2 separate regions of the Homo sapiens genome follow, and region 1 is linked to region 2. A link means that fine-mapping ties the variant in region 2 to the plasma level of a protein whose gene starts in the linked region. Region 2 holds a variant in brackets. A gene starts in the other region. All regions are shown on their forward strands. Region 1 holds the start of ADAMTS13 (ADAM metallopeptidase with thrombospondin type 1 motif 13). Region 2 overlaps LOC105369896 (a long non-coding RNA gene).

The links. PIP is the posterior inclusion probability: the model's chance that the variant is causal. Protein levels are from antibody-based Olink assays in UK Biobank. Linkage for the fine-mapping came from a reference panel and not from the study's own genotypes, which makes the PIPs less certain.
Region 1: ADAMTS13 starts here. The variant in region 2 is fine-mapped to the plasma level of the ADAMTS13 protein (UK Biobank, PIP above 0.99).

The regions. Positions count from the first base shown.
Region 1 is chr9:133,416,250-133,424,249 of GRCh38, forward strand. It overlaps ADAMTS13 (ADAM metallopeptidase with thrombospondin type 1 motif 13), which reads left to right and starts at 6,118. Exons shown (of 29, transcript NM_139027.6): 1 at 6,118-6,299; 2 at 6,852-6,918. The coding sequence starts at 6,195. It overlaps REXO4 (REX4 homolog, 3'-5' exonuclease), which reads right to left and starts at 1,761. Exons shown (of 8, transcript NM_020385.4): 1 at 1,371-1,761. The coding sequence starts at 1,595. RefSeq lists a silencer at 1,506-1,745 and enhancers at 1,856-2,075, 5,273-5,412, 5,643-5,692, 5,813-5,872.
Region 2 is chr12:91,374,966-91,392,193 of GRCh38, forward strand. The region is part of intron 4 of LOC105369896 (a long non-coding RNA gene); the gene reads right to left. Among named protein-coding and RNA genes, the nearest start is that of LINC02823, 57 kb to the left of the region's middle. RefSeq lists enhancers at 5,927-6,760, 6,761-7,592 and a silencer at 13,587-13,881. The variant G/A (reference allele first, on the strand shown) is at 9,399.

The DNA.
Region 1 (8,000 bases), not on the chromosome of region 2:
GAGTGAGAACTTACTCGTTACTGAGGGGAGGGCACCAAGTCATTCATGAGGGATCTACCCCCATGACCCAATACCTCCTATGGGCCCCATCTCCACCACTGGGGATCACATTTCTTTTTTAAAAAAACTACTTTTTACTTTTATTTAGAGATGGAATCTCACCATGTTGCCCAGGCTGGACTTGAACTCCTGAGCTCAAGTGATCCTCCTGCCTGGGCCTCCCAAAGTGCTGGGATTACACGTGTGGGCTACTCGGGAGGCTGAGGCAGGAGAATCACTGGAGCCCAGGCAGCAGTGAGCTATGATCCTAACAGGAGGTAGCTCCAAGGGAGCTCCAAGGGATGTGGTAAGAATGTATGAGTGACGCACGTGGAAGAGTGTCTAGGAGAGAGCAGGCAACCTCTACAGAAGTGCAGGTCACTAGGGAGACAGCAGGTACAACACAGCCTTAAAAGCATGGACTCCAGAGTCAGCCACCTGGTTCCCAGCCGCAATCTTAGATGATCTATTTAAACTTTTCCAGCCTATTTCCTCATCTGTACAATAGCGATGATGGAAGTGTCCACCTCACAGTCTTATTGTGGGGATTGCAACACGCATGGCATAGAGCACATGGCAGAGTGCACATTTTTAGGAGCTCAATTAGTATTTACTTCAAGACCGTAAGTGTCGCTAGAACCCCATCACATGTCTGCTATCTGCTTTTCACTTCTACACAGGAATCTTCTTTCTCCCTGTCTTGCTACACAGACCAGTGTGTTCTTTCGTTGTTGTTGTTTGAGATGGAGTCTCGCTCTGTCGCCCAGGCTGGAGTGCAGTGGCGCGATTTCGGCTTACTACTGCCTCTGCCTCCCGGGTTCAAGCGATTCTTCTGCCTCAGGCTCCCCGAGTAGCTGCGACTACCGGCGCGCGCCATCACGCCCGGCTAATATTTTTTGTACTTTTTTAGTAGACACGGGGTTTCACCATGTTGGCCGGGCTGGTCTTGAACTCTTGACCTCAGGGGATCTGCCCGCCTCGGCCTCCCAAAGTGCTGGGATCACAGGCGTGAGGCCCCGCGCCCGGCCTGGTTTCGGGATTTTAAGCTAAATTTCTCTTTGTAAAATCCATTCTAGTTAGTTCATTATGCAAAAGGTACAAGGGTTTATCTTTGCTTTTTTGTACTTGAAATAATTCTTTCATCAATTTCTTTCAAGCAAACAAGTTCGAGACCTCCCTCAACAGGCCACCTTTCTTGTGAAAAGCTGTTTACAAGATTTCGATTCAAATCTGCCTTTACAGGTCTTTTGGGGCTACCCAAGTCTTTCCCTCCGTCGCGTTCTGCGGGAATGAGCTGCGCAGCGCTCCGCCCGGGCCCCCTCAAGCCTCACCTCTTGCAGCGCCTTCCAGTTTTGAGAAAAGTCTTCTGGTGCCTTTGGAGGTCGCACCACAGCACCGGGGCCGCTTGCTGGCTTCTTGCTTACTTCCCGCGCCTTGCTTTTCCAAAACCTTTTTTTCTTCTTGTTTTTCTTCCGAGTGAGCGTCTTGACAGGACCCGGCTTAGCCACGGGGCTGCTCGGGGCGCGCTTGGAGGCGGGGACCTTCGCCTTCCCCATCCTGCTGCCGTCCAGCGCCTGGGCCGGCGGCCACCCGAGACCCCGGCCTCCCCGGGCCCGGCGCCCTGGCAGCACAAGCGCCTGCCCAGGCCAGGCCGAAACACACCCACCGCAGGGACCCCGTCCAGGAAAAGACTCCGGAAGAGACCCCGCACGCGTTGCGCATACCTCAGCACGCACGCTCCAGTCCCCGGAAGCGCTCGTCTCTCCACAACCGGCTGGAAACCGGATCCCTGCCTCTGGTTCCGCGCAGCCTGGGCGGTTCACCCGCACGGGACTTGGGCCGCCGCCTTAGCCAGCGGCATCCGGGGTCATCGACCTCGAGTTTGACTGGGGCAAGCCGAGGACCTCCCCAAGATCCGGGATGGGGATGAGAGATGCGAACGCCGGAAGGGAACTGGGGGGCCGCTGTGTGTGTAGCACCTGGTAGGGCAGCTGAGCTGGGGGCACTGGGCGGTGGGGCTAGTGAGAGCCGGGCTAGGTCGCTCGCCTGCGTCCTGGACTCTCGAGCCTTTCCCGCCTTGGGCTGCTCCTTGCTCAGCCTCACAGCGGCTCATCTTCCACGTACAGTGGGGAAACTGAGGCCCAGGCACCGGGAGGAGTTCCTGCCAGTTCACTCTGTAGCAGGACGAGCCGCAGACAAGAACCCCTCAGACACCGAATTGTAGAAGGAAAGGGCTTTATTTAGTGGGGAGCATCGGCAGACTCACGTCTCCAAAAACCGAGCTCTCTGAGTGAGCAATTCCTGTCCCTTTTAAGGGCTTACAACCCTAAGGGGGTCTGTGTGAGAGGGTCGTGATCGATTGAGCAAGCAGGGGGTACGTGACTGGGGGCTGCATGCACCGGTAATCAGAACGCAACAGAACAGGACAGGGATTTTCACAATGCTTTTCCATACAATGTCTGAAATCTATAGATAACATAACCGGTTAGGTCAAGGATTGATCTTTAACCAGGCCCAGGGCGCGGCGCCGGGCTGTCTGCCTGTGGATTTTATTTCTGCCTTTTAGTTTTTACTTCTTTATTTGGAAGCAGAAATTGGGCATAAGACAATATGAGGGGTGGTCTCCTCCCTTACTTCTGCCGCCTGGGTTCAAGCGATTCTCCTGCCTCAGCCTCCTGAGTAGCTGGGACTATAGGTGCACGCCACCACTCTCTGCCAATTTTTGTATTTTTAGTAGACCTGGGGTTTCGCCACGTTGGCCAGGCTGTCTTGAACTCCTGACCTCCAGTGATCCATCCGCCTCGGCCTCCCAAAGCGCTGGGATTACAGGTGTGAGCCACCGTGCCCGGCCGGGAGTGGGTAGATTTGATGTGCGTGTGTAACAGGCAGAGGTTGATGGAGTAACAGGGAAGTGAGGCTCCTAGGATTTTGGTCTGAGCAATTGGGTGTGGCCATTTATCATCTCAATAAATGTCTGCGGGGAGCAGGGTGAAGTATGGGGGTGGAGCCATGAGCTCCTTTTCACACTTGCTGAGTTTGAACGGGCCGTCAGTCACCAAGGAGAGACGTCTAATCAGCAGCAGGATATAAGATTCCTAAGCTTAGGGAAGGGTCAGTGCTGGAGATGTAATTTGGAAATCGTCAGCACATAATTAGTGTTGAAACATGAACCTGGGTTAGTTCATCCAAAGAGAGAGTACCAATATAGGGAGTGAAGGGTTAAGACCAGATAGCAGGTGCTGGGGGCTCTCCAGGGGCGAAGCAGCAGAGGAGGCTGAGGGGGAGCAGTCAGTGCAGTGGGAGGAGAAGCGGATGTGAGTGGCATCAGAGAATCCAGGGGGAGAATAAACCACATCAGATGCTGCTGAGAGGCTGAGAAGGACGAGGACAGAGAGATGGGAACCAGATATGGCACTGAGATTGTCAGCAAGTCCACCGAAAAGGGTTTTCTTTTTTTTTGTTTGTTTTGAGACGGAGTCTTGCTCTGCTGCCCAGGCTGGAGTGCAGTGGCGTGATATCGGCTCACCACAATCTCCACCTCCCGGGTTCAAGCGATTCTCCTGCCTCAGCCTCCTGGGTAGCTGGAACTACAGGTGCACGCCACCATGCCCAGCTAATTTTTTTTTTTTTTTTGAGACGAAGTTATGCTCTTGTCGCCCAGGCTGGAGTGCAATGGCGCAATCTCGGCTCACCGCAACCTCCACCTCCCGGGTTCAAGTGATTCTTCTGCCTCAGCCTCCCGAGTAGCTGGGATTACAGGCATGTGCCACCACGCCCGGCTAATTTTGTACTTTTAGTAGAGATGGGGTTTCTCCATGTTGGCCAGGCTGGTATGGATCTCCAGACATCAGGTGATCCTCTCGCCTCAGCCTCCCAAAGTGTTGGGATTACAGGCGTGAGCCACCGCACCTAGCCTAATTTTTGTATTTTTGAAAAGAGACGGGGTTTCACTATGCTGGCCAGGCTGATCTCGAACTCCTGACCTCATGATCCGCGTGCCTCGTGATCCACCTGCCTCGGCCTCCCAAAGTGCTGGGATTAAAGGCGTGAGCCACCACACCTGGCCCAGGTTTTCTTTTTAAAAAAGGAAAAAAACTTTGTTCCAGCAGTTTGTAAACCAGGGCAATGCAGCCTTCTGTACAAAGGTGCATTCCAGGGAACAAAGAGAACAAAGAAAGAGGTCGTCTTTTGTAGAGAACTTCCTGCCCAGGTTCCCACTTTGGTCCACTTATGCAAATGAGGAAGGCACACTTGCTTAGTTCTGATTGGTTAATACTTGCTGAGTTCAGATTGGTCGATGCAGGTCACAGTCGATGGGTTGATTCTGGCGGCATAAACAGGAACAGATAGCTGTGAAACCATCCCAGAGTTAAGTGAGAGTGGGGGCTTTCCAGGAACGCAGAATGTGTGTGTGACCCTAGTCAGCAAATGGCTGCTAGGTCCTACTTTGAATTTAGGCCCAGTTAGTAACTTGGGATCCATCAAGAAGGATTGGCTCTTTCAGGGTTCACAAAGTTATTGGTGACCTTTTAAAGATCAATTTCAATGGTATGTGGGAATTGAAGGCAAGGAAGTGGAGATAGCCACTGAAAATAATGTTTCTAAGTTCTTAAAGACAGCCAGAAACAGGGCTATGGCAGGAGGACAGTGTGGGTCAAGGGAAGGTTGTTGATTGTAATCAAGAGACACCAGAGTGTCTGGGCTTGGTGGCTCATGCCTGTAATCCCAGCACTTTGGGAGGCCGAGGCAGTCAGCTCACCTGAGGTCAGGAGTTTGAGACCAGCTTGGCCAACATGGCGAAACCCCACCTCTACTAAAAATACAAAAACTAGCCAGGCGTGATGGCGGGTGCCTGTAATCCCAGCCACAAGGGAGGCTGAGGCAGGAGAATCACTTGAACCTGGGTGGCGGAGGTTGCAGTGAGCCGAGATCGTGCCACTGCACTCCAGCCTGGGTGACACAGCAAGACTCTGTCTCAAAAAACAAACAAAAACCAAAAAGAGACAGGAGAGTCATTCATGCTGATGGAGTGAGCCAGGTACCAGGATCTCGATATCTAAGCATGCCCCCTTCTCCAACAGCCTCCTTACCTTCCTGCATGAAAGCACACCCTTCCCTCCAGTCCCCCATTCCTTTATTCTGCTGTATTTTTCTCCATAACACTTACCACCTTTGAACATACTACATATACAACATGTGTCTGTCTAGCAACTTTGCTGTCTGGCTCTCTTCCCTAGAATTTAAGCTGTGAGAGGCCGAGGCTGCTGTCTGCCTGGCTTGGGGCTGCTTTCCTGGTGTCTAGCACAGAGCCTGGCCTGTTTCAGGGGCTCAGTGAAACATTTGTTGGCTGAAGGAATGAATGAATGGCTCTAGCAGAGGGGCAGAAACTAACGATGCAGGAGGAGAGAGCTGGGAAGGGATCCAGAGCCAGGGCCTGGCAGGAAGTGTAGGTGTGTCCTCCCTGATCGCAGAGGAGGAGAGAGGCTGCACTTTGAGGGGTGGAAAGACAAGGTGAATCCCCCTGCTGGTCATCAGCTTGTGCGGCTCTGTGGGTGTAAAAGAGTGGTTTGGAGCATGTGAAGTGAGTCTTCCAGGAGATGAAGGGGATTGCCAGGCCGTTTGTGATGATGCTGAGATCTGGTGCCGTGCAGCCTGCTTCTGCGACTCTCCTCATCAGGCGCAGGCACAGAGTAGGTGGAGAGTTGAGCCAGAACCACGATGTCTTTGGCACAGCCTCTCATCTGTCAGATGGGAGCGGGGACCCCGGAGAGGGAGTCAGCCGAGGTCCTGGCATTCCTTGTGAACCCCCGTCTGTGGGTTTCTGGTCCAGTGTCCCTTCTCCAGATTAGATGGCTTAGGCCTCCTCTAAGGGGGTGGGCGTGCACATCCGGAGAGCTGTCTGGTGTGCAGGACTGGGCTGCAGGTTACCCTGAACTGCAACCATCTTAGAGCAAGGCCCAGCTTGCAGCAGGAGGAGCTGCAGGCCGCCCACCCTAGCCACGGCCCCTGCCCTGGCAGGAAGCTTCCAAGAGTAAACACTGCCTAATCGTCCCGCCCAGTAGTGAGCAGGCCTGTCCCATTCCATACTGACCAGATTCCCAGTCACCAAGGCCCCCTCTCACTCCGCTCCACTCCTCGGGCTGGCTCTCCTGAGGATGCACCAGCGTCACCCCCGGGCAAGATGCCCTCCCCTCTGTGTGGCCGGAATCCTTGCCTGTGGCTTTCTCCTGGGCTGCTGGGGACCCTCCCATTTCCAGCAGGTGGGCTCATTTGCAGGAGCGGGGGTATTCTGGGAGCCTCTGGGTGGGGTATTCTGAGCTACCTGGGGCGAGGGGAGTGCCAAATAGCTGACTACATCAGCTTTGGGGTTTGCGCTGGGCAGGGGAGTCTGTACTTGGGGCTTTGGGGGATGAAGTGTGCTCACTGAAGAGGGAGTTGGTGTCTCAGTACGACCTGCTCATTCGGTGAAGCTGAACAGACAGATACTAGTTTGTCCCAAACTGTGTAGGTTGCTCTTCTCTGCCTCTCCCTTCCTCTCCCTGTCTCTGATTTCCCCCTCTCCTTCTTGGTTGGCCTCACCCACCTCCTGCCTCCTGTCTCCCTCTTCATCCATCTCTTTTTGTTCTTTTTTCTTTCTCTCTCTCTCTTTTTTTTTTTTTTTTTTTTTTTAAGACATGGGGTCTTGTTATGTTGCCCCAGCTGGTCTCAAACTCCTGGACTCAAGTGATCCTCCCACCTCGGTCTCCCCAAGTGTTAGGATTACAGGCCAGAGCCACTATGCCCGGCCCCATCCATCTCTTTTTGTCTTGCAGAGTTGTCTTCAGGCTTTGGAGCCACAGGCCGTGTCTTCTTACTTGAGCCCTGGTGCTCCCTTAAAAGGTACTTGTCCTGGTGTCTTCTCTCCCGGGGGGAGTTTCTCAGGACTTTCAAGGGGTATCTCACCACTGAGTCAGTGGTCTGGGATTTTTGGTGGATCTGGAAGGAGAAGGTCAGAGAAGCTGCTGTCAACCCTGTTAATTAACTCTGTTACTTCCTGCCAAGTTGATATAAGCTGGTCTGGGTGTTCCAGCCAGGCCAGGGTTCTCACCCTAGCTTCTGTTAAATATCACAAGGGAACGGTCACCGATTGGCTGGCCCCTCCTGCCCCATGGCCTCTGCTGAGCTGGCTGATTTTCAGGAGCTCTTGTGGTTTCTGACCGTGGATGTAAATATTTATTCCTTCTGTGGGAAACAAGATAGGTACTGGCTCAGGCTACCTCCTAAGGCCATGGATTTCCTTATGATAAAGGCCTGTCCCCATTGCCCACAGGCCCATGTCTGTGACCTTCTCCGGTGCGAGCCCCCTTCCCAGTAGGGCCATTGGCAACTTGACTAATGGCTGATGGGGGCCAGAGGCAGGTGGGCTAGTGGTCAGGGGCAACAGGAGGGCAAGGCCCACTTTGTGACCTGGTTCTTTGTGGTCTAGGCCAGAGGCACACTGACCAGTGCCTGGGGCCACGCTGGGGGCTGGATGCAGCCGACGCTGTCTGGGTATCCCATAGCCTGGGTCCTTCCAGCGCTGCCGCTCCTGAAAGGCTGGGAGATCATTGCCCAGGGTCCCTGACCCTCTAAGGGCTCCCTTGGGAGAGGACAGTGAGGGCTGGCCTGGGCCCCTGCTTCCCAAGAGACCACTGGGCTCCACTCGTGTTCAGTTTCCTGTCGGGGTCCATGATGTTACTTGTGAAACACCTGTGCCCAGAGCAGGGTCCAGGAGGCAGGGCAGGGGCTTTCCCCTTTGGGCAGAGCCACCAGGGCAGTGGGAATCTTGTCTTGATGGGGTGACCCAAAGCACACAATAGCCCAACAGCTCCTCCTGGGCCCTGCCCTTTGCGTGCCTAGTCACTAATGGGGTCTGGCTCTTGGGGTGGGGGTGACACGCAATGTCTTGACTTCGGAAGGCCATCCTTCCAAGACCTGCCAGC
Region 2 (17,228 bases):
TAATTTTTGTATTTTTTGTAGAGATGGGGTTTTGCCATGTCTCTCAGGCTGGTCTTGAACTCCTGGGCTCAGATGACTTGCCCGCCTCAGCCTCCCAAAGTGCTGGGATTACAGGAGTGAGCCACCATGTCCAGCTTTCACAATTAAGTTTGAAAACCACTGAACTACAATATAAGACTTAAGTGTTGGCTTAGTACAGGGAGACTTGTTTAAAAAGGGCTAAGAGAGTCTTGTGGGTTCAGGCAAAACTTCTCAAAGAAGTTATTTCTAAGAGGAGGATTGCAGGATTGGTAGAAATTGGCTGGGCAAAGGGAAGGCGGGTGGGCAGAAATGAGAGGATATGCTGAATCAGGCTAGAGGTGCAAAATGGCAGAGCTTATTCAGAATTCAGGAAGGGTTCAGGGAGGCTGGAACTGCCATTGGTGGAGAGTAAGGAACAGTTAACACCTCTTATCAAAGAACAGGCAAAGCCTACCATCTATCACATCTGCAGGTAACAGAACAGTAAAAGTAACAGCTGCTGTTAGCAGTGACCAGTAGGTTTTTTCCATCAGGAAGGTCTGCAAGTCAGAATAAAGTGAGTGAGGAAAGAGGCACAGTTGTGCATGTGAAGTTAGAGGGCCTTTGGAGGTCTATCCATGCAGGAAGACAGGGAGTGAGCAGGAGGGACAACCCAGATAATACTAGGATTCTCCTCAAGAGGATGATGTCTTAGTCTTATTGGGCTGCTACAACAAAACACCATAAACTGGGTGGGTTATGAACATCAGAAATGTATTTCTTATAGTCCTGGAGTCTGGGAAGCCCAAAATCAAGGCACTGGCAGATTTGGTGTCTGATGAAGGCTGTTTCCTGCTTCATGAACAGTTAGTTTTTTTACTGTGTCCTCACCTGGCAGAAGGATGAGGGATGTCTTTAGGGCTTCTATTGTAAGGGCAGTAATCCCATTCACTGGAGATTTGATCTCACCTCCCAAAGGCCCCAGCTACAAATACTCTCATCCTGGGGATTCGTTTTCAAGAACAACAAAAAAATTTTGATGACATACAAACATTCAGAGCATAGCACTAGGCCCTAATCCAATCTGATTGGTGTCCTTATGGAAGAGGAGATTAGAACATACTAGGGGACACCAGAATATGAGCACACAGAGGAGAGACCACGTGAAGACACAGAAGAAAGCAACCATCTGCAAGCTGAAGAGAGAAGTCCCAAAGAAACCAAACCTGCTGACACCTTGATATTGGACTTCTAGCTTCCAGAATTGCGAGAAGATAAATTTCTGTTGTTTGAGTCATCTCATCTATGGTACTTGATTATGGCAGCCATAGCAAAGTAAGACACCATCCTCTTGAGGATGGATTGCATTAGCCTTATGCAATTAGTATGAATGTACTAGAAGATGATGGCATCACTCGAACTGAAATCCAATTTGTGAACATACCGTCTGACTCCTGATACTTCTGCGAAATAATATTAAGTGAAGAAAGATAAAATGCTAAGAGGGGAGTTCTAAAATTGTTTGGATTAGTGGCATTAGATTTCTCTTCCAGATCCCTTATTCCTATATCTGTCCTACAAATTCTAACACAGGGTGAAAGGTTGGAGATCAACATGAATATCTTGCATTTCTCAGCCTTTAGCATAGGGAATGCCTACACATTGTATATCTTCTGTCAGAAAATGTTTCTATATCCAGTTTCCCATGTTGTCTCCTTGCCTTTTGATATTAATGACTACATTTCTAGCAAAGTTTGCAGAAAGTAGGGGATGATTTCTATGGAGATTTAGTCCCAGAGGTTAATGGGGTTGTGCATTGTGTGAAGAGTAATGCCTTTCAATGGTGACAAAGTAATGCTCAACAGCTTTCAAGCCACTGCATCCATCATCAATTTGGGCTGTGGTTTGTTACTGACATGAAGTGTAATATAGGGTCCTCCAGAAAGCATCATGATTCCGTTTCCCACGGTAACCCCAGCAGTGCATGTCAGCCAACATCTGGCTTCACAGCTGTGAAATTTACAAGAAGCCTGTGCCCATGCCTCTTTTCAAAGGTAATTTGCTGAACAGCACATACGCTCATTTGACGGACACACTGTGGCACCACAGGCACCAACCACAGGGTGATGGGTCCTACAAAATACCCAATCAGCTATTTTATTATTTTAACCAAAGGAAGTATAACATTGACATTGCAGTAAGTAAAGGATAGTACAAAACTAGACCCTGACATGGACATCAGTACTTACAGCCAAATTGGAAAACCAGCTGATTAACAAAGGACTTTTCTGAAACAAACCAAGTCATTATGCACCAAGGCAAACTACAGTGGTCATTTTAAAAACTACAGTCGACTTTTAAAGACTCCACAGAAGGCCAGAGGTGTTCCAATAGCCGCTTACCCTCCCCCCACCAAAAAAAGGGTAAGGGATTTTCGCAGCATTTTTTTCTAATAGTCCTGTATTTAAAATGGATGTTTAAAAGCATTCGTTTGTCATTCTGTCAGTTGTAAGCAACAAATCATTCTCACTGAGAAATTACAGAGGCTTTCAAGATGCATGAAAGAGAAAAGAGTTGCCACTGGAAGGAGAGGGCAGCTGTAAATAAGACCCCTTAGGCATGCAGCTGTAATGAGGACTATTCACAGTGCCACTTCATGCCTTTGCTTTCTGCTCACTTATTCCGGACATATTGCTTAAGAGCTCTGTAATCTTTGGGGTTTGAAAAATTTATAGTTATGTGACCAACACCCAGCCCCACCTCCTTCTGGATTGTTCTACATCTAACTATACTACAGATTTTCACATGATGAATGATCTTGGATGCCAATGAAAAGGAATAGTTCACTCGGATCTATAGATTCCCTTACTTTGCTAAAATAATATGCTTCTACATCAAGTTTCAAAATGGTTTGCATTTTTTTGCCCTACCTATGTTTTCCCTCAGCTTCTTTCCATATTTTTCCTTAGTGGAAAATCTATAATAATAGGTTCTGCTGTTTTATTAAAAATATAAGGGATATTTGGATTGTGTTATTTTATTCTGAGGTCTATTATTACACTTTCCAGTATTTCCTTTTGAAAACATAATTAAGTTTATTCTTATAATATAATGTAAATACAATTATTTTCTCATTTGGGGAATATATTTTAGAGTGGCTATTAGCAGTATACAATATTACTTTTATTTGTTTATAAAAGCCAGAGGAATTAAGACAGTACAAATTCCACGTTCCATTTTTAATCTTCATAGTTCTTTGTAGGTTTAGCCACATTTTCCTTCCTTATTTATTTCATAATTTGAAAAACCATAATGACATCTACTTGATCTTGAATTGCAATAAAATTTTCATTTTTGTCATAGCATTTACCTCATTTTAGATAAAATTTGACTTAGATGGTTTGGTTTTAAATTGTTGCTGTTGTTTTCATTTGTAAGCTTCATGGTAGCCTGTACACTAAAAATTACAAATATCACTTGTCCTTGCACAAAGTTACCCTCTAATTTAAATATTTTCCCTCAAACTTCCCCTTATTCTGACTTGGGATATCCTCATGTCATTAAAGATTTTGATTTCCTAAAAGGTCCTCAAAATTTTGTAGAAAAGCACTTTATTCATTACTAACCTAGTATATACACATATGATTCTAATTTTCTTCCCATGTTTTAAGGCTTTTATAGTAATATTACACAAATGGTCTGCCTAACAGCCAATCATTTCCAAGATAAAAATGGGCCAAGAGACAAATGACAGGCAATTATTAAGCCTTTTAAGGAGAAACTGTTAAGCCTAGAAGAATATTGATACAAACTGACTTTCTGCACAGTGGACTCAACAAAGCTAACATAATTCACACCAGAGATTCTCTATGGGACCATAAATTAATCAGATTGAAAAGATGGCAACCCAGAAACACAATAAATTGTTCTATGGCATAGTAAGGCACCCTCCACATTCTTATTTTCAATGGCACAATAAGACACATACACACACACCTGACAAAGAATGAATAATTTTGGAAAAAGCTGCCATGTTTTCAGTTTAATCTAAAGACAGAGAGAGAAAGAGGAGGAGGAGGAGGATCCTATATTCACTCCTAACTGCAAGTTTGGAAGAGGTATGAGGAATTTGGGAGTGAGGCAAAGAGGCCACAATGTAAGGGAGAATTGAAATACAACTCGAAAGCCTGGCATCCATGAGGTGAGAGGAGAGCAGGAGATGCCAGAGTTACCCATTACTGACTTGGCTTACTTTACAGAACACAGGAAACTGTTGCTTCTAAGAAAATATCTATTTCATCATAAAAGAATTACAGCTCTTTTGTACATATGAATTTAGCCTGTTTTAATTTTGCCTGGCATTTTGGCTTTGCAAATCTTTAGGTATGAGTGCTAAAGTGTTATTCCAACCATTTCACTCTTTCCCAGTGAATGTTAGAACAATCACCTTTCGGTTAATAAACATGCAGTTTTTTACAACTACTATCACAAGTAACAGTTTAGTGTGTAGAAAGAATCAATGGTAAATTTTGGTGTTTCCAGTAGCTCAATATCTCATTTATCCTTTAGGTATCTGGCAAGCTGTCTTTCCCTTTTCTGGTCACCACTCCTCTGGGGATGTAGCCAAGTACAAAATTGCACATTTCTCCTCCCACAAGTGTCTCAGCTCCCACAGAAAACAAAATCTACATCAAGCATGTTTAAGATGATCTACATGTGAAGTAGAAAGGTTAACACACAAGAGGAGTAACAGACTCATTTATTTATTTATTTTTACCTTCAAGGAGTTTAAATACAAACACAGAGAGAAAACTGAAAATAAGCATGATTCTAGAATTTGTATTATTGTTATATATATATTTTTTAAGTAGATAAGCATAAAACTAAGGAATTGCTCAGATGACCAAGTCTGGAGCAAAAACATCTGACACAGGAAAGTGAGAAAATAAAATGGGGGCCTTGAGTAGAAAAATTTCAATGGGTTAATTTCTGCTGGCGTTCAACATGTTATGCCATAGCAAACAAATAAGAATCATGCTGGGTCTCAATTTATCAGATTCCTTTAATTTACTAAGACTGCATATTAAACTAAATTGTTAGCAGCTGGTTGACTACCTCAACCTAACTCAACTCCTGGGAGCAATTACAGAGCTTCTCAAAATCTGTCCCTGTGTGCATCAAATTGATGTTGGAAAGAAAAAGATACCTCTTTCTAAAGTACTTTATTTCAGCCTTTCAAATTCACCTTCTGAAACCTAGGTGACATTCCTTCTAAACACTGTATACGGTATTGCTTAAGACAAGGAAAGTTTTCCCCCAAAACTATTTGTGCTCCCTTCACTCTGGTAGAATTTTTGGTAAGTTCTTTGGCCTATGCCCACCATATACTAGGCCGCCCTTGCTCACAGAAGGCCACAGCAAACCCCTTCTGCAAGCCCACGATGGAATCGTAAATCTTTACAACTTATTGAAGTCTTCCAGATTTTTAAATATGCCCATGATCCAGACTTTTTGCTTGCATGTTTAAATGGTTGCCTGATGGCTTGCAACAAGAAGTAGAAAGGCATTTTTCTTAAAATAAGCAAACAACCATGGCAAATGAGGTCATATTCCCAAGCTTGAATAATAAATATTGCTAAAATCTACAACCTGAAACATATTTTAAGAATTAGACATAGATTTGGGTTTTTTCTTTCTTTTTCAGGAAGGGGTCTCCCTTGCTGCCAATAAAAATTGCTTTGTGTTGTAAAATTTGGGTTCAGCTTGTCTCCTCCTTATATAAGCCCAGTTGAATAGACTGCTGAGGGAAAATCAAAGTTTAAGAGCCTGGCTTTTCCCGTTTGGCAACTTTCATTTCCTGATAATATCGGATAATTAACAAATTGTGTGTTTTAATGCCCTGTCTCTTGAAGCGCATTTGGGAAAAATACTTCTTGTGCCCTCTGAGTAATGGCTTAAATGGAAGAACATGCTCAAAAGAATGCTTTTTCTCAATGCATGAAACACACTCAGCATTTATTATTTTAATTGCTACACATCATGTGTATACTCGTTCGTGTAATTATATACATATTTAAAGGGCAAGAGGAAAAGATTATTTTAGGACTCTATAATTCATTATGAGCAAGGCATTGAAAATTTCTAACTCAAGATGAAAATTCATAAAAATTCTTTGGCAAAAACACCTTAGTATTCTCAATACGGTAACTGACTTTTTTTTTTTTGCGTTATGAAATAACTAGATACTACCGTGCGTTGCTTTTGGATAAAAGGGGAATGCTGTTTCTTAGCCTTTCTGTCTCTTTACTAAATGGATAATTCAGGACTGGGAAATGCAGCTCTAAGTTTGTTGTTTACGAAAAACACATGCTAATGTAACAGCGTATGAGGAATTAAAGAGAAAATGTCAAACGCGCCTTGACATCCAAAATGCATTTAGCTGTTGGCTTTTACTACAGGGCCTTTCACTCTCCAGCCGACCCCCTCCAAGACCAAGTGTTTTTGCGTGTTGGGCTAAAAATAGCCAGCCAAGCCTAACAACTAGCTTCTGATTGGCTCAGAGCAAAGGCCACTCAGCCAATAAGAGCTTCTGGGAACAAAAGCAATTCTTTTGTGTGAGATACTCAACCCACGTCAAAACAGCTTCAGGCTGTAGAAATGATTTTGGTTGAGCTTTAACAAGGTAATAATGCATTTCAGCCCTCTGAAAGGTTTGAAGCGGAACAAAGGGAGTAGTGAAATCTACAAAACAAATGGAGCGCTCAAGGCTTTCATGGGATGAATCATCCGGGTGCCTGAGCTACAAACAGTTGCAAGCTCAGAAAAGAAAAAGCGCTAGGATTTTCTTTCTTTCTTCCTGAGATTTTAACTTATTTTTCAAGCGAAAAACAAAACAAAACAAAAACAAAAAACTAACGAAAAGCCATCAAAGGCGTTGTATCTTGACTATGCCCAAATTTGTTATTATGCTTATTTGATGATGAATAAAAAGCAATTCTTCCACGGTTCCCTTAAATCTCACAAAGAGAAAACAAATGTATGTGTAGTAGATAGTAGGTAGTAAAGCTCCCGAAACTTTGGGCTTTCGTTTTTGGGCACCAAAAGCAGCCCATGTTTTCAGAGTAAAGGCAGGTCTTGATTAATGCTGTGATAGTTCTCAAGGTAAGCAAATTACAGCAGCACTTGATTGGAGAAAAGCATTGAAGTTTTGGAGGTTTTGGCCACTTTCAAGGCATTGTGCCTCTAGGGGTCGCTGTTGGACAGCGGACGAACCTCTTCAGGGCATCCTTCCCCCTTTAATAGTCACTAAAAGAAGAAGCTTAGTAGGCGCCTTTCAGGTAGAACAAAAGGGAGTGGGGAGTCAGTGTTTGAGACCCTTGAGCATGGTTTATGGTCATCACTATGGGACAAAGCATCCCATAACAATGCAGATTACTTTATATGGAAATGAAATGCCATAAAGGACAAAATGTTGCTACAGTAACCACTGAAAATGTTACATAACACATAGGAGCTCATAGGCCATTTCATGGCCTTAAACTGGCTTTATTGTATGGAAAATAATTAAAAGATGATGTGGTGCTTTATAGGCTTCCTTTTTAGGAAACAGAAGGACCCACACTTTAACCTCTCACATAGGAAACCTGTATAGGTTACCAAGTCCTGAAGTTGGCAGAGAAATACAGGTCACAAACAGACTGTTCCCATGTTCTCCTCCCAGAAAACTATGGATTCAATGTAACTTTTTCCCTTGAATATAGCTTTTATGATAAACAATTAGTAAATGAATCCTTAATTAAGCTTTATTCCTGGTGTGGCACAACAAGACCTAAGAAAATCAAACATCTCAGTAAAACTGAAACATATTTTTATTATCTGATTGGTTATAATCAAGAAGCAATATTTCTGTAACAGTTACCTGTCTAAGGAAATGCATAATCTGTCATAAAATATTGCATTCATCAATTATTGGCCCCAGCTGCATTTATGAGCCTATAATCTTTTGCCATAAAACATGGATGTTGGGGAGAGGGGCTGTAGAGAGGAGTATCATATTCATTAACCAATACTACAGAAACTAAAAGTGGTAGTAGACCCTTTTTTTTCTATTGCATTCAGTTTATAATAGTTTCCTTTGACAATAATAATTATAATAATAAAAGAAAAAGAAAAATCCACCTAGGAATTGTATTCCTAAACAACGAAATCTCCAGATGACTACGGATATGTAGTTTTCAACATGCAATATCTGGAAAGAATGTGGGTTCTGTTTCTTTGCAGTAATTCTGTGTGTTTTATAGTCTTTGCTTTATCATCCTGGCCTAGAGCCAGTTAAAGAAATTCATCACCAAATGTGCAACAACCCATGAGAGGGAGTCCAGCATTGAGTTTGGAAATAGAATGAGGTGATTGTAGAGGAAGAGGCCGAGGCTGTCAGTGATGTATTTCCCTATCTCCCTGAGCCTGTCAGCTATTGAGTTGCTCAAGTCCCAGCCCTGACACCTAGCTGCCCCTGTGCCACCATCAGGATGCCCAGTGAGAGAAGAAGAGATGGGGAAATGGAAAGAAATCATCCTGTCCCACCTGCCCATGCAGTAAAGAAGACAAGGAAGAATTTGTAGAAGCCAGGGGTGGAGAGTCTTCCCCCAGAGGAGAGAGGCTCATTGGTCATAGGCCCTAGGGCAGTGGAACCACAGCCCTGGTCCTCAGATGAATGTGGGAGAAGGCAGGATGACTCCAGAGTTGAATATTAGATGTCAGGAGCCCGCAGAAGTGAGAGATGGCTACCAGGAGATGGGACCACAGCTGGGTTCGTTCCAAACATGACCAAAGATTCCCACCTGAGACTGGTACACAAGCACTTGAGAACTGCCAGATGTCAAGGGGATCTTCTGGATAGTGAAAAAATCAGAAGTGACCATGTTAGCCAGAACATCAGCTTCTTCCCTATTTTCATGAAGATTTAAGGCTCCCAGTCTCTGGTGCTATTTTGAAAAGGCTAGAGGAATTCTTGGCAATATGGTAGAATTGAGTCTTGGAGTTAAAACTACGTTAGATTAAGATAAATAATACAAAAGCCATTTCTAACATATCTGAGATTTGCATTATACAAAAGACCATAGTTTATATTTTCTAACAACTGTGTTATTTATCACTGCATTCGTTCCTCAGTACAATCCTATAATGGAATTAGGACAGGTGTCCTGATCCATTTATGCCTAGTGTTCCATTATTGGAACGCTAAGCATCTGGGAGTTATTTATATCCTGCTGCTCAAGGTCATCACCAAGATCTGATTGCAAAAATTCAAAAAATTGCAGCTTCAGGCACAAATGGGTTAATTAGCATTAACAAAGCAAGCCCTTCTGACTTTTATGTTATTCTTCACAAAACTCTCT[G/A]GGATTTGTCATTATTATATTAAGTAAACATTTTGAAGTTTTGTAAACACTAAGTTGAGGGACTTGGCAAAGATCATTCAGGCTCTGTCTTCTGTGCTGAAACAAAATTGATAATTGAGATACTTTTCTGAGTAATTTTATTATGAAATCCTCCTCTTATCAGAAATACCTGCATCATGTTTCATTGCTAATTTTGGAAACAGAACAACAGACCTTTGAGAGAGCACTGGCTTGGAAACTAGATTTTGAGATTAACTGTTATGTAAGGACTTAGGATTTTGCTAGTTACAGGTGCCAGGGAGAAATTGGTCATAGCTAGGAAGCTAAAAAATGGAAGCCAAGCTATATAAAAGACAAGATCCCGTAGCCATGCACTAGGTAAAGGGTATGGTCATGAGGACTGGAAGCCCAGTAATTCCAAAATTAGGTGGAAGTGATTTTACAAAAAAGTCTATAATTGTGACGGTATGGATAGACAAGAAATCAAGAATCCTGAGTAGCACAGCTAGAACTGGAAATGGTAAGTAGCAAATTTATAAAGTCTAGAAAGTTAGCAGCAAATCTTGGTTATGAATGGCCTAAGTCATATGAAATCCAGATCCTCACAAAGGGAACTGAAGCACCAAAATGGAGGAGGAGTCAATATTGAGGAAATAACTACTTCCTAGGAACCTAGTGTAGAAGTGCAAACAGCTGTGGATTCTCAGTTCTAGATCAGGAATCATAAGTGAGGGGCACTCCTACCATTGTCCTTTCATTCACATTTGTCAGCCACCAGGCATCACCAGTGAAACACAGCACCCTTTTCTGTGACATCTGGAAGCGGCCTTAATATCTTTCTCAATACAGTGACCCAAGAAACCACAGGAAATCAATTGGAATTACAGTTTTGGGTGTATATTAAGCAAACAACTTAATGTAGCCTATAGGAGAATTAGAGTCACAGTTCTATAGAGTAGGGTGACTATACGTCGCACATGTCCCAGAATGTTTTTTGTTTACATCTCTTGTTACAACATAATTAATAGCACCCCATTCACTCTCAAAGGTGTCCCAAGTATGGACTATAAATTATATTGTCCTTCTGTTTATGGGGAAAATAGTCAGACATCCAAGCCCTACTTCTGACTGACCATGTAATCTTAAGGCTATGTAAAACCACTGAATCAAGTTACTGAAGAAAACAGATACCCTGTATATTTGGTACCATGGAGATCACATTTGTTTTATGCATATGCATGATCTGTTTATGGATTATGGGTCTCAAATTCCCTTCTAAGAGAAATGAATACCTACATTCAAAACTAAAAGGGAGTGATCAGTGACATAAAAAATACTCAATGTGTTTTGTGATCCTTGAGATCAGAGGCTATGAAATGAAGTAAAGAATATTTTACTTAATATTGTTATATACATTGCAAGAAACATTACTTCAAGTTTGCTAATGTATTTGTTCTCTCAACAAACAATTACAGAATGCCTGTGATAAAAGAGCAAATGTGTGGGATAGGTACTGCCATTCCCAGTTTCCTACTCCCATAGCCGACATCGCTAATTGATCATGGAACTCTTTCCCTCTCAGAACAGGCTACACATCAGAATCCTTCTCCACAAGTCTTCTTGGCACCCACACCATTAAACAGAACTTATACTTGAGTTGAGCTCAAGTTTCTGTCCATCCCCAGCCCTGCCCTTCTGTCAGGTCCTGTACTAAATGGTAGAAGTACTGAAAAGCAATCAAATTATGATTGCTTTTGAGAGGCCTCTGGTCTACTGGAGGAGACAGACAAGCACATGCTTCATTGCAGGGATAGGACTAGGGGATGCTTGTGCACCAGGTGCCAGTATCATCGTTGTCTGCTGATGATGGACCTATATGCAAAACACTAGAAGGATTTTAGGTGAGCCTTTGTGCAGTCTAATGAAAGCTTGACAGATAAAAGATACTTACGTTGGAATTTGAAGAGCAGTTAAGGATCAGATCAAGAAGTAAGAGAGTCCAAAACAGAAGAAACAGCATACGCACAACCATTGTGAAATAAAGTGAGAGTAAAATCAGGTGGGGCATGGGAGTGGTGGCAGTGGGGGAGGCATGCTGGTGCAGAAAGGCTTGATTTTAGGGATTAATGTGAAATACAAATTAGAGGTATGTCCACATTGAAAGCAAATCAGTAGGAGTAAGACATTCACCAGTTATTTGCCTACGTGTAAAATTGTTTTGATGAAGTATTTTTTTAAAATTAATTAAGCTGTAAAGAATTCATTACATCAACCCCTCCCCTCCCCTCATTTGGCTTAATGTAGCTACAGATGCAGGTTCCAATATTTCTTGTGCAGTCTTTTACTTATTTCTCCTCAAACTCCTTTCTTAAATTAAGGGCAAACAGCCTTGTCTTCCCTGATACATCGGTCAGGTTTTTAGGTTTATTTGTTCTTTTATGTTTCTTATACTACAGCCATACTACATTTAGCTCCCATGTCTGCATCTAAAATCTAAAATGTATACTTGCTGTCTACAAAACCAAAAATGCTGTGGTATTTTAGTACGTGGAAGACTCAGTTCATGATTTTTAATGCCCAAATATTATTGAAAATGCAGCTTGTACGTTTTTCTACCCACAAGCTCTCCAGATCCATCTTTAGAGTATTTTATCAAGTTCCAGTCTCTGGAGTCATTCTGTAGTCTTGCCTGCCTTTTTCCATAAAATTTACTTAGCTCTGTGGACTGGTCCTCTCCTAGTTTTAATCCCTATTTGTCCCAGTATATATTTATCTAGATTGTACAGCTAGCTTTGGGTTCTATGCTACCTATTCCTCTAGTCTACCACTAGAATTATCCAGAATTATCTTCTATTGCACCTCAAGAAGCTCCCATCATCTCCATTGTCCCAAGTCCCATCCCAAGTACTATGGAATTTCCTCTCTTACCTCAAAATTGTGTTCTCTTTAGAAATGTCATTAGTTTTGTAGATCATAAATATCCTGAAATCATTGAGTGTATACCTCTAGGGTGACTATTCATTATTCTGGACTTATAATTTTAACCTAATTATAGAGGCAAAATATTTCTGAATCTATCTATACATGTTATATAGTTGTAGATCTAGAGGTAGCTTTTCTCAAGATAAAAAGTAAAAATAAATCTCAATTCTTTTTTTCAGGCAAAGGTTTCTCTTTTCCAGTTACAATTCTCTGATGACTATAACTGATATTTAAACCTCAGAATATTTTGGGTTCAGTTCAGATAAGCATCTACGACTTTGAATGTTATTTCAACATTTTGAGTACATAAATTAAAAATGTATGAACAAATAGCTCACATCAGATTTTTGCTCTGAGATATAATCATTTCCAGCAACAAAGTATGTGAATGACAAAAGCAGTATCAATTTTATCTGACCTACATGCTTATGAACAGGTTCTTTTCCAAGAGTTTATTTGTAGGTCATTTAGAAGTCCAAATCAGCTTTGCTCATTGAAACAGTGCTAAGCTGTGGTGAGGTGCTGAGGCCAGCCTGTCAGAGCCTGGCATGGAGTGCTAAGACTCCTGAAGGGCTTTTGTAGTAGACCCTGAGTTGGGGAACAGTGATAATGATACTTGACATTGATAATTATTCAGCTCTGTATGCTTTCCATGTGTTAACTCATTTAACCACAACCATATGAGACAGGCACTACTTTCATACGGAGTTAATGAGGACAAAGAGGTTGAATAGCTTATACACAGCACTCAACTTGCAGAAGTTGAATTTGAATCCAGATATTCTGGCTCCAGGGCTAGTGTTCTCAACCACCACTTCTGGAAAGGGGATGGGGAGGATGGGGAAAAGAAACTGCTCAGAACAAATGTGGGTGTGAGGGGAGATGACAACTGGAAGAAGGGATTGAGAAGAATCAGCTGTGAAGGAGGAGATGCTGATCATTAGCAGGGTGGAATTTTGCCTCCATTCCTTCCTCTTAACTTTCAAAATCTTCTTTATTATCTTTCATTATCATGTCCTCATTTAGTCTTCCATTTCTTTTCTTTCTTATACCACAGCAGATTCTACTACTGAAGGTGTATTGAGTAACAGGGAATATGGAATTGGAGATGAACTGGGTTAGGGTAACAATTGTCCTGGTTTGCCCCTGCCTTAAGGGGTTACTGGGAACACCAGATATCCAGTTTTAAGACCAGGAAAGTTTCTGGCAAATGAGAACTAGGTTGGTCACCTTAGTATGTGTATGACAGAACTGTTGTCACAAGACCCTGTACAAACACAAGGAGGAAGGGAAACGGGAACCAAAAAGAATTCCTCAGGAGCAGTGACCATGGGAAATTTGTGAGAGCTGAACTTCAAGCAGCTGGGATGGATTTTGAGCTTCAAACTCCCAAGTGCATTGAGAACATTAAGCAAAAGTTTCTGCTTGATCATTTCTCCCCAGTTCTTAAGTAGTATTTAGACAGATTAAATTTGGCCCCAAACTAGGTCATGAGGTTTTACAAGAGTGTGGAGGACAGTGGGAAGCTGCTTTTATCTGATGAAAGCAACTGGAAAAACAACACTGTTAAAAGTTTACTTGTCCCTACAGGAAAGAAATGTCTTATTCAAATTACCCAGGGCCACTTCATGTTCCTTCCTTGTTTAGTGATTGAAGGAAAAAATAACATTGCTATCAACTTAAATTTCATATACAGATAATAAATAGTTTTTGAAATAACTATTAAACATACTGAGAAACAGGCTGAAATACTCTCTAAAATTCTATGCTGTCTACTGTGTTCAGATTTACTCTATTTCTACAGTTATTAGTTATCAACTGAGTTACTGTCCTTATCTTCTTAAAACTATAATTTGTTGGGTTTATTTTTTAGTATTTAAAATATTACTAAATGATTTAAACAATTGTTTACCATTGTTGATTTTAAATGAGTATTTTCTATCATAAAAATACATTTTGAAGAGATTTACAATGAAAACATTTTCCAAAGTAGCAAAAATATAGCCTTTGACATGAATTAACTGCTTTTCCAAGCACCCTTATGAGACATATTTTTAAATTGTTTTTAGAGGTATTCTAAGTACATAAAGTTTCTGGAACACTCTTAATGAAACGTTTTTGAAGTTGAAAATATAATGGCAAACGAAGGCAGCCTGTCTAGATAAAACTATAAAAAATAGTCAAGTAACCTTTCCACCATGTATAATCAAGACACCTTATACCTTATTATATACCTGATATAATCTATTATATTTAAAATAAAATGCTTCAATTCTTCTAGAAAAAAAAATTTGAAATGCCCATTAATTCATGAGTTTATCATTAAAATTCTATATTACTATGTGAGGCAAAGCCAGATTTTCTACTGATTTCTTTTGGCACCAAAAAAGAAATAGAAAGAATAAGATAATAAATCCATAGGATCCTCAACTTAAATCATGGTTAATTTATTAGTCAAATCTTGGTGCAATGACAAACAACTCTAAGTTATCAGTGGTTTATGACATCTTAGTCTGTGCAGGCTGCTGCAACAGAATGCCATAGACTGTGTGGCCTACAACAACAGAAACTTTATTTCTCACAGTTCTGGAGGCTGGGAAGTTCAAGATCATGGCATTGGCAGATATTGATGTCTACAGCCTTCTTACTCTACCCTCACGTGGCAAAAGGGTTGAGGTGTCTCTCTTGGGTCTCTTTTAAATGCACACTAATCCTATTTAAGAAGGCCCTGACCCCTTGACCTAATCACTTCTCAAAGTCCACACTTCCGAATACCATCACCTTGGGGGTGAAGATTTAAATTTTTGGGGGGACATCAACATTCCACCCTGTAGCATAACACATTTAGTTTTTGCTTATATTATATGAGAATGTGAACTGGCTTCATCTCTGCTACGCTCAACAGGACTCAGCTTGATGGTATTCTTCGTGTCTTACCATTCTGGGATCTAGACTGAAGAAGCACCCACTCTCTGGAACATGCTATTTTCATGGTGGAAAACAAAAACTCAAGCATGGACAGAGCCTAATGCAAATACTTGATGCTATATGTCACATCATCCCAGCCCACTTCATTTTTTAAATTAAATCTAAAATTTGTTATGGGTACATAGTAGGTGTGTATATTTGTGGGGTACATGAGATATTTTAGTACAGGCATATAATGCATAATAATCACATCAGGGTAAATGGGGTATCTATCACTTTAAGCCTTTATCATTTCTTTCTGTTACAAATATTCCCATTATATTCTCTCTGTTATTTTTAAATGTGCAATAAATTTTTGTTGACTGTAATCATCCTGTTGTGCTGTCAAATACTAGGTTTTATTCACTCAATCTAACTATATTTTTGTACCCGTTAACCATACCCACTCCCCCCACTCACCATTCATAGCCTCTGGTAACCACCATTCTACTCTCTATCTCCATTAGTTAATTGTTTAAATTTTTAGCTCCCATAAATGAGTGAGAACATGTGAAGTTTGTCTTTCTGTGTCTGGCTTTTTTCGCTTAACATAATGTCCTCCAGTTCCATCTATGTTATTACAAATGAAATGATCTCATTCTTTTTTATAGCTGAGTATTCTGGTTAGTAATTCCTTGTCAGGTGAATAGTTTGCAAATATTTTCTCCCATTCTTTGAATTTTTTATTCGCTTTGTTGATTATTTCCTTTGCTGCACCGAAGCTTTTAACTTGATGTGATCCCATTTTTGTTTTGGTTGCCTTTGTTTGTGGGGTATTACTCAAGAAATCTTTGCGCAGTCCAATGTCCTGGAGTGTTTCCCCAATGTTTTATTTTAGTAGTTTCATAGTTTCAGGTATTTGATTTAAGTCTTTAATCCATTTTGACTCAATTTTTGTATATGGTGAGAGGGGTCAGAGGTCAATTTTCATTCTTCTGCATATGGATATTCAGTTTTCCCAGCACTATTTATTGAAGAGACTGTCCTTTCCTCAATGTATGTTCTTGGCTCCTTTGTTGAAAATGAATTCACTATAGATGTATGGATTTATTTTGGGGTTCTCTATTCTGTTTCATTGGTCTATGTGTCTGTTTTATGCCAGTACTATGCTGTTTACTGTAGCTCTATAGTATGATTTGAAGTCCGGTAATTTGATTCCTCCAGTTTTGTTCATTTTGCTCAGAATGGCTTTAGCTCTTCTGGGTGTTTTCTGGGTCCATATAAATTTTAGGATTTTTTTTTCCTATTTCTGCAAAGAATGTCACTGATTTTTTTGATAGGGATTGCATTAAATCTATAGATTGCTTTGGGTAGTTTGGACATTGTAGCAATATAAATTGTCCCAATCCATAAACATGAAATATCTTGAGGACTTGTGCATCCTCTTAAATTTCTTTCATTAACATTTTATAGTTTTTATTGCATAGATCTTTCACTTCTTTGGTTAAATTTATTCCTAGGTATTTTATTTTATTTGTAACTATTTTAAATGGGATTACTTTCTTGATTTCTCTTTCAGATTGTTCACTGTTGGCATATAGAAATTCCACTAATTTTTGTATGTTGATTTTGTATCCAGCAAGTTTACTAAATTTATCAGTTCTAATAGTTTTGGCAGAGTCTTTAGATTTTTTTCAAATATAAGATCATGTAATCTGTAAACAAGGATAATTTGACTTCTTCCTTTTCAATTTGGATGCCCTTTCTTTCTTTCTCTTCTCTGACTGCTTCAGCTACGACTGCCAGTTCTATGTTTAGTAACAGTGGCAAAAGTGGGCATCCCCACCTTGTTCCAGAACTTAGAAGAAAGATTTTCAGTTTTTCCACATTCAATATGACACTAGCTGTAGGTCTGTTAAATATGGCTTTTAATGTGTTGAG